3 linked regions of the Homo sapiens genome follow. The protein of the gene in region 1 purifies or fractionates together with the protein of each later gene. This does not show direct contact. Each region holds a gene or a part of one and is shown in the gene's direction. Other genes may lie near its edges. The genes, in order: MMP13, KIFBP and CS.

The links.
Region 2: the proteins of MMP13 (region 1) and KIFBP purify together in Homo sapiens (affinity purification with mass spectrometry; one large-scale study listed by BioGRID and IntAct). This does not show direct contact.
Region 3: the proteins of MMP13 (region 1) and CS purify together in Homo sapiens (affinity purification with mass spectrometry; one large-scale study listed by BioGRID and IntAct). This does not show direct contact.

Annotation. Positions count from the first base shown.
Region 1 is NC_000011.10:102,953,458-102,957,286, reverse strand, and holds the start of MMP13 (collagenase 3 preproprotein), read left to right. Parts: upstream 1-1,554; 5' UTR 1,555-1,581; coding exon 1,582-1,701; intron 1,702-1,793; coding exon 1,794-2,035; intron 2,036-2,680; coding exon 2,681-2,829; intron 2,830-3,005; coding exon 3,006-3,131; intron 3,132-3,829. UniProt on the Homo sapiens protein: Plays a role in the degradation of extracellular matrix proteins including fibrillar collagen, fibronectin, TNC and ACAN.
Region 2 is NC_000010.11:69,002,303-69,005,802, forward strand, and holds part of KIFBP (KIF-binding protein), read left to right. Parts: intron 1-2,743; coding exon 2,744-2,823; intron 2,824-3,429; coding exon 3,430-3,500. UniProt on the Homo sapiens protein: Activator of KIF1B plus-end-directed microtubule motor activity. Required for organization of axonal microtubules, and axonal outgrowth and maintenance during peripheral and central nervous system development.
Region 3 is NC_000012.12:56,286,670-56,290,398, reverse strand, and holds part of CS (citrate synthase, mitochondrial precursor), read left to right. Parts: intron 1-3,729. UniProt on the Homo sapiens protein: Key enzyme of the Krebs tricarboxylic acid cycle which catalyzes the synthesis of citrate from acetyl coenzyme A and oxaloacetate.

The DNA of each region.
Region 1 (3,829 bases):
GCATTCCTGATTGAGCACCAATCTAATCTTGAACTCACTGGAAACAATCTATTTGAAAGGGTATATTTGGCTGTATTTTGTTTGGATAAAGGCATATAGTAAATTTCCCTCAAATGATCACATACATGTTGTAGGCTTTTCTGATTTTTCTCTAAGGCACTGGCTACTCTAGATTATAGGATTTTACTCATATGTTAGGATACCCATTTCGTACTCACCCTAAAGCTGTATTCATGCTCCTTCTCTTTGTCTTACTATGTTCCTGACCTGAGCAGCATTTTCTTTCTGACTCTTAGTCACTCAAATTAACCTGCATTTCCAATCATTTATTTAAAGAAGTCCAATAAATCCAAAGATCATGGCCTATATTGCTCTACCCATTTACTTCTGCAGGGGACCAAAGATGGCACTTTGATTTCACGGTACTGAATGTGTGATGTTCTGAAAGGAATAATAGGGTAGAGGCCCCTAGGACTATTTTCCTGATGGTTGGACCAAGATTACTTCTATTATTCAAACTTAAAAATTGAGAAACTTGAAATTGGCCTACTGCAGCCCTAGTTTTCTTGGGCACTCCCTGAGGTGTAGGAACCAAACAGCTCAGCTTTTAAGAAAATATCTGAGAATGGAAAGGGTGGAGGTCATAATTAGACAGGGACGGTGGTCAAGAACATTGAGTTTTGAGTTATTGGCCTAGGTTCAAATCCTGGTATCATTTATAAACTATATGACCGTATACAAGTATTTAACTTCTCAGTGTATCAGATTATTCATATGTAAAATGGAAAACAAGCTTTCTGACAGCACCTATGTGGCTGTTGTAAGGATTAAATGAGATAATGCCTTTTAAACCTAGAATGCAGTAATCCCTGTTTGTGCTAGCCATTACAGTTGTTCCGTTCCAATGTAATTCTTCTACCTCTGTCTGAATCTGTAGGGAATTTATGCAGGACTCCATATTTGTCGAGAGGTCATGCCAGTGTGTTTAAATTCCAACCATGGGGCTCAATCCTGCGGTTGTGCCGTAGCACCTCCAAGTCATCAAGCTTGGTTTTGGTCCAATATCGTGAACTTCAGGTAGACACAAGACATCTCTCTGTAGTTATTCTAGAGAAAATGCAGTTTATAATTTACCAGGCAGTAGTAAACATTCTAGAATCAGTACTAAGTTTCTCTTTATGGAAGTAAACATGCCATCTTGATACACTTATTATTCGAAGAAGCAAAAGTAGATACGTTCTTACAGAAGGCAAAAAAAAAAAAATTTTGCTAAGTGAAGTAAAAAATGTACTACTCTCTGCTTCTTCCCACAGTATCCATAAATATGCTGAGGCCGTTTATTTTGCCAGATGGGTTTTGAGACCCTGCTGAAACAAGAGATGCTCTCATTTATATTTCCCTCAAATTCTACCACAAACCACACTCGGGAGGGAAAAGAAAAAGTCGCCACGTAAGCATGTTTACCTTCAAGTGACTGGGAAGTGGAAACCTATCCATAAGTGATGACTCACCATTGCAGGCCTATAAAAGTAAAGGTAATCTCTGCGGAAAGACAACAGTCCCCAGGCATCACCATTCAAGATGCATCCAGGGGTCCTGGCTGCCTTCCTCTTCTTGAGCTGGACTCATTGTCGGGCCCTGCCCCTTCCCAGTGGTGGTGATGAAGATGATTTGTCTGAGGAAGACCTCCAGTTTGCAGAGGTAGAGTATCTTGCCAATCCTGATGATGCGGTTGGTACATCTCAGAAATGTCCTTCTCTTTTAAACGCAGTTCATTTTGGTGTCTTTTCTAGCGCTACCTGAGATCATACTACCATCCTACAAATCTCGCGGGAATCCTGAAGGAGAATGCAGCAAGCTCCATGACTGAGAGGCTCCGAGAAATGCAGTCTTTCTTCGGCTTAGAGGTGACTGGCAAACTTGACGATAACACCTTAGATGTCATGAAAAAGCCAAGATGCGGGGTTCCTGATGTGGGTGAATACAATGTTTTCCCTCGAACTCTTAAATGGTCCAAAATGAATTTAACCTACAGGTAAATCATAGGCTATCTTTCTTTCATATTTGTTAGCCTTTTCTTGTAGTATTAAATGTCTAATATTAAGTAGGCCTTATTATTTAATTGGCAGTTAAATTCCAGAATAGCTTTAATATGGTTGCCGAGAATACCTCATAACATCTATTATTGTTACATTAACTCAGCATTATTTTTTAGTGGGCATCTCAAAGTATTTCTTTTAGAGATGAAATCAAAAGAGAAATAAAAGTAGGTTAAAGAAAATTTGCAAACATAGTACATTAGGTGTATTTATTACAACAGTGCTCAAGATGAAGAGTTCCACTCTTTCTAGAAACTTTACAGAGCTATTTCATTTATTTGAGCTTTATCAATGTAATCTAAACTTTTAGCATGCAAAATAAATTATATTAAACATTGGAATATTTTAAATTTAAGATGCCACATGGTCAGATATTTGGAGATACTCAAATGTGGCTGAATTTTTGACTTTTTATTCTTGTATGGCATCATAATTAATACATTATTTGAAACAATAAACCTCTAGTAGAACTTTCAAAGAAATTATTGCATTTTGAATTGAAAAGCAATATACCAAGAAAATGTATTCTAAAATAGCTGTCACTTTCCAAAAAGTTCATTGAAACTTTCTCTGTTAAATAGAATTGTGAATTACACCCCTGATATGACTCATTCTGAAGTCGAAAAGGCATTCAAAAAAGCCTTCAAAGTTTGGTCCGATGTAACTCCTCTGAATTTTACCAGACTTCACGATGGCATTGCTGACATCATGATCTCTTTTGGAATTAAGGGTAATGATGCACATTTATTTTACAAACATTTTTATATTCTAATTCTTGGTTCCATTTTAAAATTATTTATTTCAGTCATTCATTACTTTTTAAAGAATTCAACACTAATTTACCAAACACCTGTGCTAAGTACTCCTGGATGTGATAAGACTCCTAACCCTTGCTTTTGTGTGTAGAGCATGGCGACTTCTACCCATTTGATGGGCCCTCTGGCCTGCTGGCTCATGCTTTTCCTCCTGGGCCAAATTATGGAGGAGATGCCCATTTTGATGATGATGAAACCTGGACAAGTAGTTCCAAAGGTAATGTTTCTTATAAAGATATCATTTATGTGTTATTAGATTAGACAGTGAACACACTAGTATGAAGTTAAAACACATAAAAGTTAAATATATTTGGTATTTGACTATATTTTCTTAAATAAAGTTTATCTTAGATGTATTAGTGTCTCTACAAGTGACATTTCTACAAATTGATATCAACATTAAAAAATGAACAAAATCTACTTAATCTGTCACTGTGGCTTGAGGGATACTAATGAACTTTGAAGTAGGACCAAAATGTTTATGTCTGTCAGCCAACATGTTATTACTGCAAATTACCTTTTGGCATGTTGAGGAAGTACAGTTTATTAGAAATATCTAACTAAAAACTACCAGGGCTGGATCTATGGGTCATACATGAATTAGATGTGAATTGAAATAGTTTTTTGCTTGGTAGAAATATGTTCAATCAAATTTCTGTTTCCCATTATATGAGTTGCTTGATTCAGTCTTGTCTATATATTGTAAACACTATTCTTAAAAACCTAGACAGACTCTTACTCCAAACAGCATGAAACAGACAAGATGATGGTTGTATTTACAAGAGCAAAATGAAACTGAATGTTGAATGAGATCAGTTAGTAGTTAAATCTTCAAGTCTCAAAATAATTGGGAATGTTAACTTAGGAAGAAAAGCCATAGATTGTTCTAACTAGGACTTAGTTATGACAAGTAGA
Region 2 (3,500 bases), on another chromosome or scaffold:
GTGCCCGCCACCATTCCCAGCTAATTTTTGTATTTTTATAGAGACCGGGTTTCACCATGTTGCCAGGCTGGTCTCAAACTCCTGACCTCAAGTGATCCGCCCACCTCAGCCTCCCAAAGTGCTGGGATTACAGGCATAAGCCACCATGCCCAGCCTCGTACCTTGGCATTTTAACTTTCTTCCTGAAGTACTAACAAGAGCAGAGTGCCACAAAACCAAATAGAGATATTAGTCTACCCTTTCTTGCTTTTAGGCTCACAGTCTTATATGTGAAATTGTTAATTTAAAATGTAAGGTCTGAGGCCAGGCACAGTGGCTCACGCCTTTAATCCCAGCACTTTGGGAGGCTGAGGTGGGTGGATTGCCTGACTTAGAGGTTCAAAGATCAGCCTGGGCCACATAGTGATACGCTGTCTCTACAAAAACTAAAAAAAAATTAGCTGGGTGTGGTGGCGTGTGCTTGTGGTCCCAGCTACTTCGGGGGCTGAGGTGGGAGGATGGCTTGAGTCCGGGAGGGCAGTCCAGGAGGTCAAAGCAGCAGTGAGCGAGGATCCTGCCACTGCACGCCAGCCTAGGTAACCAAATAAGACCCTGTCTCAAAAATAAGTAAAATAAAATGTAAAAGCTGAACACGGTGACTTACACTTATAATCCCAGCACTTTGGGAGGCCGAGGTGGGAAGATTGCTTGATGCCAGGAGTTCAAGACCAACATGAGCAACAAAGCAAGAACCCGTCTTTACAAAAAAAAAAAAAAAAAAAGTTACTAAGCATCAATAGTATTTCATTAAAAATAGTATTTGTATGGAAACATAACACATATAGTGAAATTCCTTGTGTTTAGTTGTACCTCTGTTTCAGTTAAGAGACTGATTTGACTGTATTAATATTACGTATGATGTGTGAAAGCCATAACAGTGAAGTATGTACATAAAATAATATATTGATTAATTCCCCTCATCTAGACAGGGGTAAGCATGGTAAGCAGCCCTCGGAATTGTTGAAGAGTTCTCTGAAGAATTACTTATCTATTGTGTTTGCCTTGGGCCTTGCTTCCTGTCTTAGTTGTTTTTACTTTATGTGAATCCTGGGAGCCCACGTTGTGATGCTTTTAGTGTTTACATCCAGAATGTAAAATCATATTTTTATGAAAGACGTTGTTCCTTTTTGAGTTTAATGAATTCAGTTAAAAGCAAGAGTGTGTTTCTAGATGGGACTATCCTCATAGAAGTAGAATGAGGCAGAGGTTAGGTAGTTCTGTTTTGGAAGACGTAAGAGGGGGTTGTAAGTGATTTATAAATATTACTTAATCCTCATGAGATAGATACTGTTATTACCCTTATTTTATAGATGACTAAACAGAAGCACAAGAGATCAAGTGACTTGCCCAAGGCAATAAATAATGGAATCTGGTTTTAATGTCCCTGTATTGAAAGGGGGTAATACACTTTTGTTATTTCCTTGAGAAAAAAATATTAGAATAAATATTAAAATCTCTCATTTGATTTTTATTAGTGGTCAGTTTAGAATACTACTACTGTAGAAATATATACATTTTTCCTATTTGTTTTGCTTATGCATGTTTTTAAAAGAGCCCTTTTACCAGACAAAATTGCCATTTGAAATACTTAAAGAGGGGTCGGGCACGGTGGCTTACACCTGTAATCCCAGCACTTTGCGGGGGCCGAGGCAGGCGGATCATGAGATCAAGAGATTGAGACCATCCTGGCCAACATGGAGAAACCCCGTCTCTACTAAAAATACAAAAATTAGCTGGGGGTGGTGGCACGTGTCTGTAATCCTAGCTACCCAGGAGGTTAAGGCAGGTGAATCGCTTGAACCCGGGAGGCGGAGGTTGCAGTGAGCCGAGATCGCACCACTGCACTCCAGCCTGGCAAAAGAGCGAGACTCCATCTCCAAAAAAAAAAAAAAAAAAAAAAACTTAAAGAGGCTGGGCACCTTAGCTCATGCCTGTAGTTTCAGCACTTTGGGAGGCTGAGGCAGGAGGATCACTGGAGGCTAGGAGTTCAAGACCAGCCTGGGCAACAGAGCAAGACCCCCATCTCTAAATAAATAAATAAGAATTAAAAAAAGAAAAAATACTTCAAGAATTATATATGTCTAAAAGCAGATTGGTGGATTTTTTGCATATTTGCAGTTTAACTGCAACAACAGTAAAATTTTGTCAAATGTGAACTTTTGACATTTGGTTAAAACAAATAAAAGGGTATCTTTTATTTGTTTGACTCAGATTTTATGGTTAAGAAAATTACTTGTTGAGGCGGGTGCAGTGGCTCACGCCTATAATCCTAGCACTTTGGGAGGCCAAGGCAGGTGGATTGCTTGAGCCCAGGAGTTTTAAGACCAGTCTGGGCAACATAGCGAAACCCTGTCTCTACAAAAAATATAAAAATTAGCCAGGACTGGTGGTGCACACCTGTGGTTCCAGCTACTCAGGAGGCTGAGGTAGGAGGATTGCTTGAGGTGGGAGGATCGGGAGACGGAGGTTACAGTAAGCCGAGATTGTGCCACTCCACTCCAGCCTGGGTGACAGAGACCCTGTCTCAATAAATAAATAAAAATTTAAAAAACAGAAAATTACTTCTTGAGTAACATAAAAATGAACTAGGAAAAAATGAAATGTATTTGGCTTGTAGAAGTTGATTTCTCCAGGTCCTCCAGAAGAGGGCACTTGGTGTTTACAGTTTAAAACTTTAAAGAGCTTTTGTTTTTCTTAATTGTAGGTTGGGAGTCCTCCTCTTGATCCTACTGAGCGTTTTCTTCCTGAAGAAGAGAAACTTACTGAACAAGAGAGATCAAAAAGGTGAGTAGGTATAGAAATCAGCCCTTGCAAATATTTCCACATATCATAGATTAGTGATTGTTCAAAAAGTCACTTATAAAGGTTATAGAATGTGGATTCTGACAGGAGTAAAACCTCCATTTACCACTTACTTGTTATTTGACCTTGTTCAAACCTGAGACTCAGTTTCCTTATCTGTCAAATAGATACAATAAACAAATCCAACTCAAAGGGTTGGTGGGATAATCAAAATAAATATATATGAAATTTACTTATAAAACGTAAACCATGGTCCGGACACGGTGGCTTACACCTGTAATCCCAGCACTTTGGGAGGCTGAGGCGGGTGGATCACAAGGTCAGGAGTTCAAGACTGGCCTGACTATTATGGTGAAACCCCGTCTCTACCAAAAATACAAAAATTAGCCAGGCATGGTGGCAGGCGCCTGTAATCCCAGCTACTCGGGAGGCTGAGGCAGGAGAATTGCTTGAACCCAGGAGGCGGAGGCAGTGAGCCAAGATCGTGCCACTGTACTCCAGCCTGGGCAACAGAGCGAGACTCTGTCTCAGGAAAAAAAAAAAACAAGTAAACCATTACACAAATATTGGTTTATTTTTTCTTTACAGATTTGAAAAGGTTTATACTCATAACCTATATTACCTAGCTCAAGTCTACCAGCATCTGGAAATGTTTGAGA
Region 3 (3,729 bases), on another chromosome or scaffold:
TCTACTAAAAATACAAAAAATTAGCCGGGTGTGTTGGTGTGCACCTGTAATCTTAGCTACTCAGGAGGCTGAGGCAGGAGAATAGTGTGAACCTGGGAGAGGGAGGTTGCAATGAGCTAAGATTGTGCCATTGCACTCCAGCCTGGGTGACAGTGTGAGACTCCTTCTCAAAAACAAACAAACAAACAAAAAAACATAAAATCTTCCGGGCACTGTGGCTCATACCTGTAATCCCAGCACTTTGGGAGGCTGAGGCAAGTGGATCATTTGAGGTCAGGAGTTTGAGACCAGCCTGGCCAACGTGGTGAAACCCTGTCTCTACTAAAAAACTACAAAAATTAGCTGGGCATGGTGGCGGGTGCGTGTAGTCCTGGCTACTCGCGAGGCTGAGGCAGGAGAATCGCTTGAACCTGGGAGGCGGAGGTTGCAGTGAGCCAAGATCAAGCCACTGCACTCAGCCTGGGCAACAGAGCAAGACTCGGTCTCAAAACAAAACAAAACAGAAAGTCAGCTGGTTGCAGTGGCTCATGCCGGTAATCTCAGCACTGTGGGAGACTGAGGTAGGAAGATCGCTTGAGCCCAGGAGTTCAAAGCCAGCCGGGGCAACATAGCAAGACCCCCGTCTCTATAAGAAAAGTTTAAAAGATAAAATTAGCTGGCCGGGCGCGGTGGCTCACGCCTGTAATCCCAGCACTTTGGGAGGCCGAGGCGGGCAGATCACGAGGTCAGGAGATCGAGACCATCCTGGCTAACACAGTGAAACCCTGTCTCTACTAAAATACAAAAAATTAGCCAGGCGTGGTGGCGGGTGCCTGTAGTCCCAGCTACTTGGGAGCCTGAGGCAGGAGAATGGTGTTGAACCTTGGAGGTGGAGCTTGCAGTGAGCTGAGATCGCACCACTGCACTCCGGCCTGGGTAACATAGCGGGACTCCGTCTCAAAAAAAAAAATTAATTAAATTAAATTTAAAAAAAAATCACCACAGCAAACAACCACCCTCAATTAAAAGGTCTCCTGCTGGGCTGATGTAGTCTCTGGGACATGGGGCCTCTCTAGTAGGGAATCTGTGGGACTCTAAACCATGGAATAGCTTGAACAAGGTTAACTCTGTAGAACAATAGTTTGAACTTATTAACATGTTTTCTTTGCCCACTTTTTTTGTGAAAGAAAGGGCAAAGTTACATCTTCAGTGCTGGGTTCAGCTTCCTGTTTGCCCATGTAGGGTGCAAGGGCTATGAAGGGCTGTTTGTGCTGCCTATTTTCTTGCTCAAGTGATCCTCAGTAAGATAGAGGAGACTCTTGAGGAAGTTAAGAAAAGGAGTTAAGGACAGCCCTGGTAACAAGTTGAGGTGTTCCTCGTTTGCTTTAGGAACATACTGGCTTGGTCTATGCTCTCTGAATTTACCTTTGGATTGATTCTTTTAAAAGTAATCTTTTCTGTCTGGGTGCAGTGGTGCATACCTGTAATCCCAGCACTTTGGGAGGCTGAAAATGGAGGATCACTTGAGCCCAGGATCACTCGAGGCCAGCCTGGGCAACAGAGCAAGACCCCATCTCTACAAAAAAAAATTTTTTTTTTTTTAATTAGCTGGGCTTGGTGATGTGCGCCTGTAATCCTGGCTACTCAGGAGGCTGAGGTGGAAGTATCACTTGAGCCCAGGAATTGAAGGCTACAGTGAGCTATTAACATGCCACTATACTCCAGCCTGGGGGAAAGAGTGACCTTTCTGAAGGGCCTCTTTTCATTCCTCCTCTCCGTCCCAACAGAAATAGGGGAACTAAATTTTAAAAATTCTAAAAATCTGGGAGGCCGAGGTAGGCGTATCACCAGATGTCAGGAGTTTGAGACCAGCCTGGACAACATGATGAAACTCTGTCTCTACTGAAAATACAAAAATTAGCCAAGCATGGTGGCGTGTGCCTATAATCCCAGCTACTCAGGAGGCTGAGGCATGAGAATCACTTGAACACGGGAGCCAGAGATCACGCCACTGCACTTCAGCCTGGGCGACAGAATGAGACTCCATCTCAAAAAAAAAAAAAAAAAAAAAAATTCTAAAAAGCCTTCAGCCCTATAGAACTCTCACCCCAGGCAGGTAGCAATTTTTTGCACAGAGAGCAGTGCAGTAGTTACTAGAAAAGGTGCCTCTGGTCTTTTGACAAAAGGACAGGTGCAGCCTTGCTCCAGGATTAGTTTATTTCTGTGTGTAATCTTCTAAGTCTGCAAAGCACTTTTATATCCACTGTAATTTAGTTATCATGGGACTATTCTGTGAGGTGTGTGGTGAGTATTAGAGCCATTTTATAGAGCAGGAAACTTAGGCTTAATTTGATTATCTCAATTTGTTTTCAAAATCTAGTACAGAAAAATTAATTTCCTTGCCTCAGGCCGTATTCCTAGTTAGTAACCTGATTGGTCATCTTATTTCAAAGTTGGTGTATGGCCTGGCATGGTGGCTTACGCCTGTAATCCCAGTGCTTTGAGAGGCCGAGGCAGGCAGATCACCTGAGGTCAGGAGTTTGAGACCAGCGTGGCCAACATGGTGAAACCCCGTCTCTACTAAAAATACAAAAAAAATTAGCCAAGCATGGTGGTGCATGCCTGTAATCCCAGCTACTCAGGAGGCTAAGGCAGGAGAATCACTTGAATCCAGAAGGCTGAGGTTGCGGTGAGCTGAGATTGTGCCATTGCACTCCAGTCTGGGCAACAAGAGTGAAACTGTCTCAAAAAAAATAAAGAAAAGGAAAAAGAAAACTCACAAAGTTGGTGTGGAACTTTTATTGCAACTTAACAATCTTCTCACAGATGTATTTTTTATTTGAGGAAAAAAGAAACTACCTGTACACACAGAAAAGCATAAACTAGCTAAACTATTTTCTCTCTCTCTCTTTTTTTTTTTTTTTTTTTTTTTTTTTTTTTGACAGAGTCTTGCTCATTTGCCCAGGCTGGAGTGCAGTGGCACAATCTTGGCTCACTGCAACCTCTGCCTCCAAGGTTTAAGCCATTCTCCCACCTCAGTCTCCTGAGTAGCTGGGATTACAGCTGCCTGCCCATACCACGCCTGGCTAATTTTTGTATTTTTAGTAGAGAAGGGTTTCACCATGTTGGCCAGGCTGGTCTTGAACTCCTGACCTCAGGTGATCCACCGCCTCAGCTTCCCAAAGTGCTGGGATTACAGGCATGAGCCACCGCGCCCAGCCAAACTAATTATTTTCTTTTGACACTCTTAGAAACTTTGCAAGTTTCCATTTCTGCTAATGAGTAGTCTTCTGTCAGCTTCTTTGTAGATAATCTTTGTGCTTTTTCCAGGAGGGTCAGAAGTACCGTTATGAAAGGCTGCCCTCTGCCTGTGGTCTTTCCCAGATTAGAGAGGTTGAAGTGCTGTCGAAAGACCAGGTGCAGGAGAGATCTTACCAGCAGTGTTAAGTAATTGCTCAGTTTCCTCATTTGTTTTCCTTGGGGTCACTCAAAAATATTGATAACCGCCCTGCTCTGGAGCCCAGATGATGGGAAAGAGTCTGTCTTCAAGGAATGCTAGTGAAGCTATGGATGAAAAAAAGCAGTTAAACCTCCTGCTGTCTCCATAGTGGTAACTCCTTCCAAACTGTTTGGGGACTTTTACAGCTTTCTTATGTCAAACTGCCCTAAGAGACTGAGATGAAGAGAGAGAGGTTGAGTCACTGTAATTCCTTCTTGTTAATATAAAAGAGGGAGGGGTAACAGTTACAT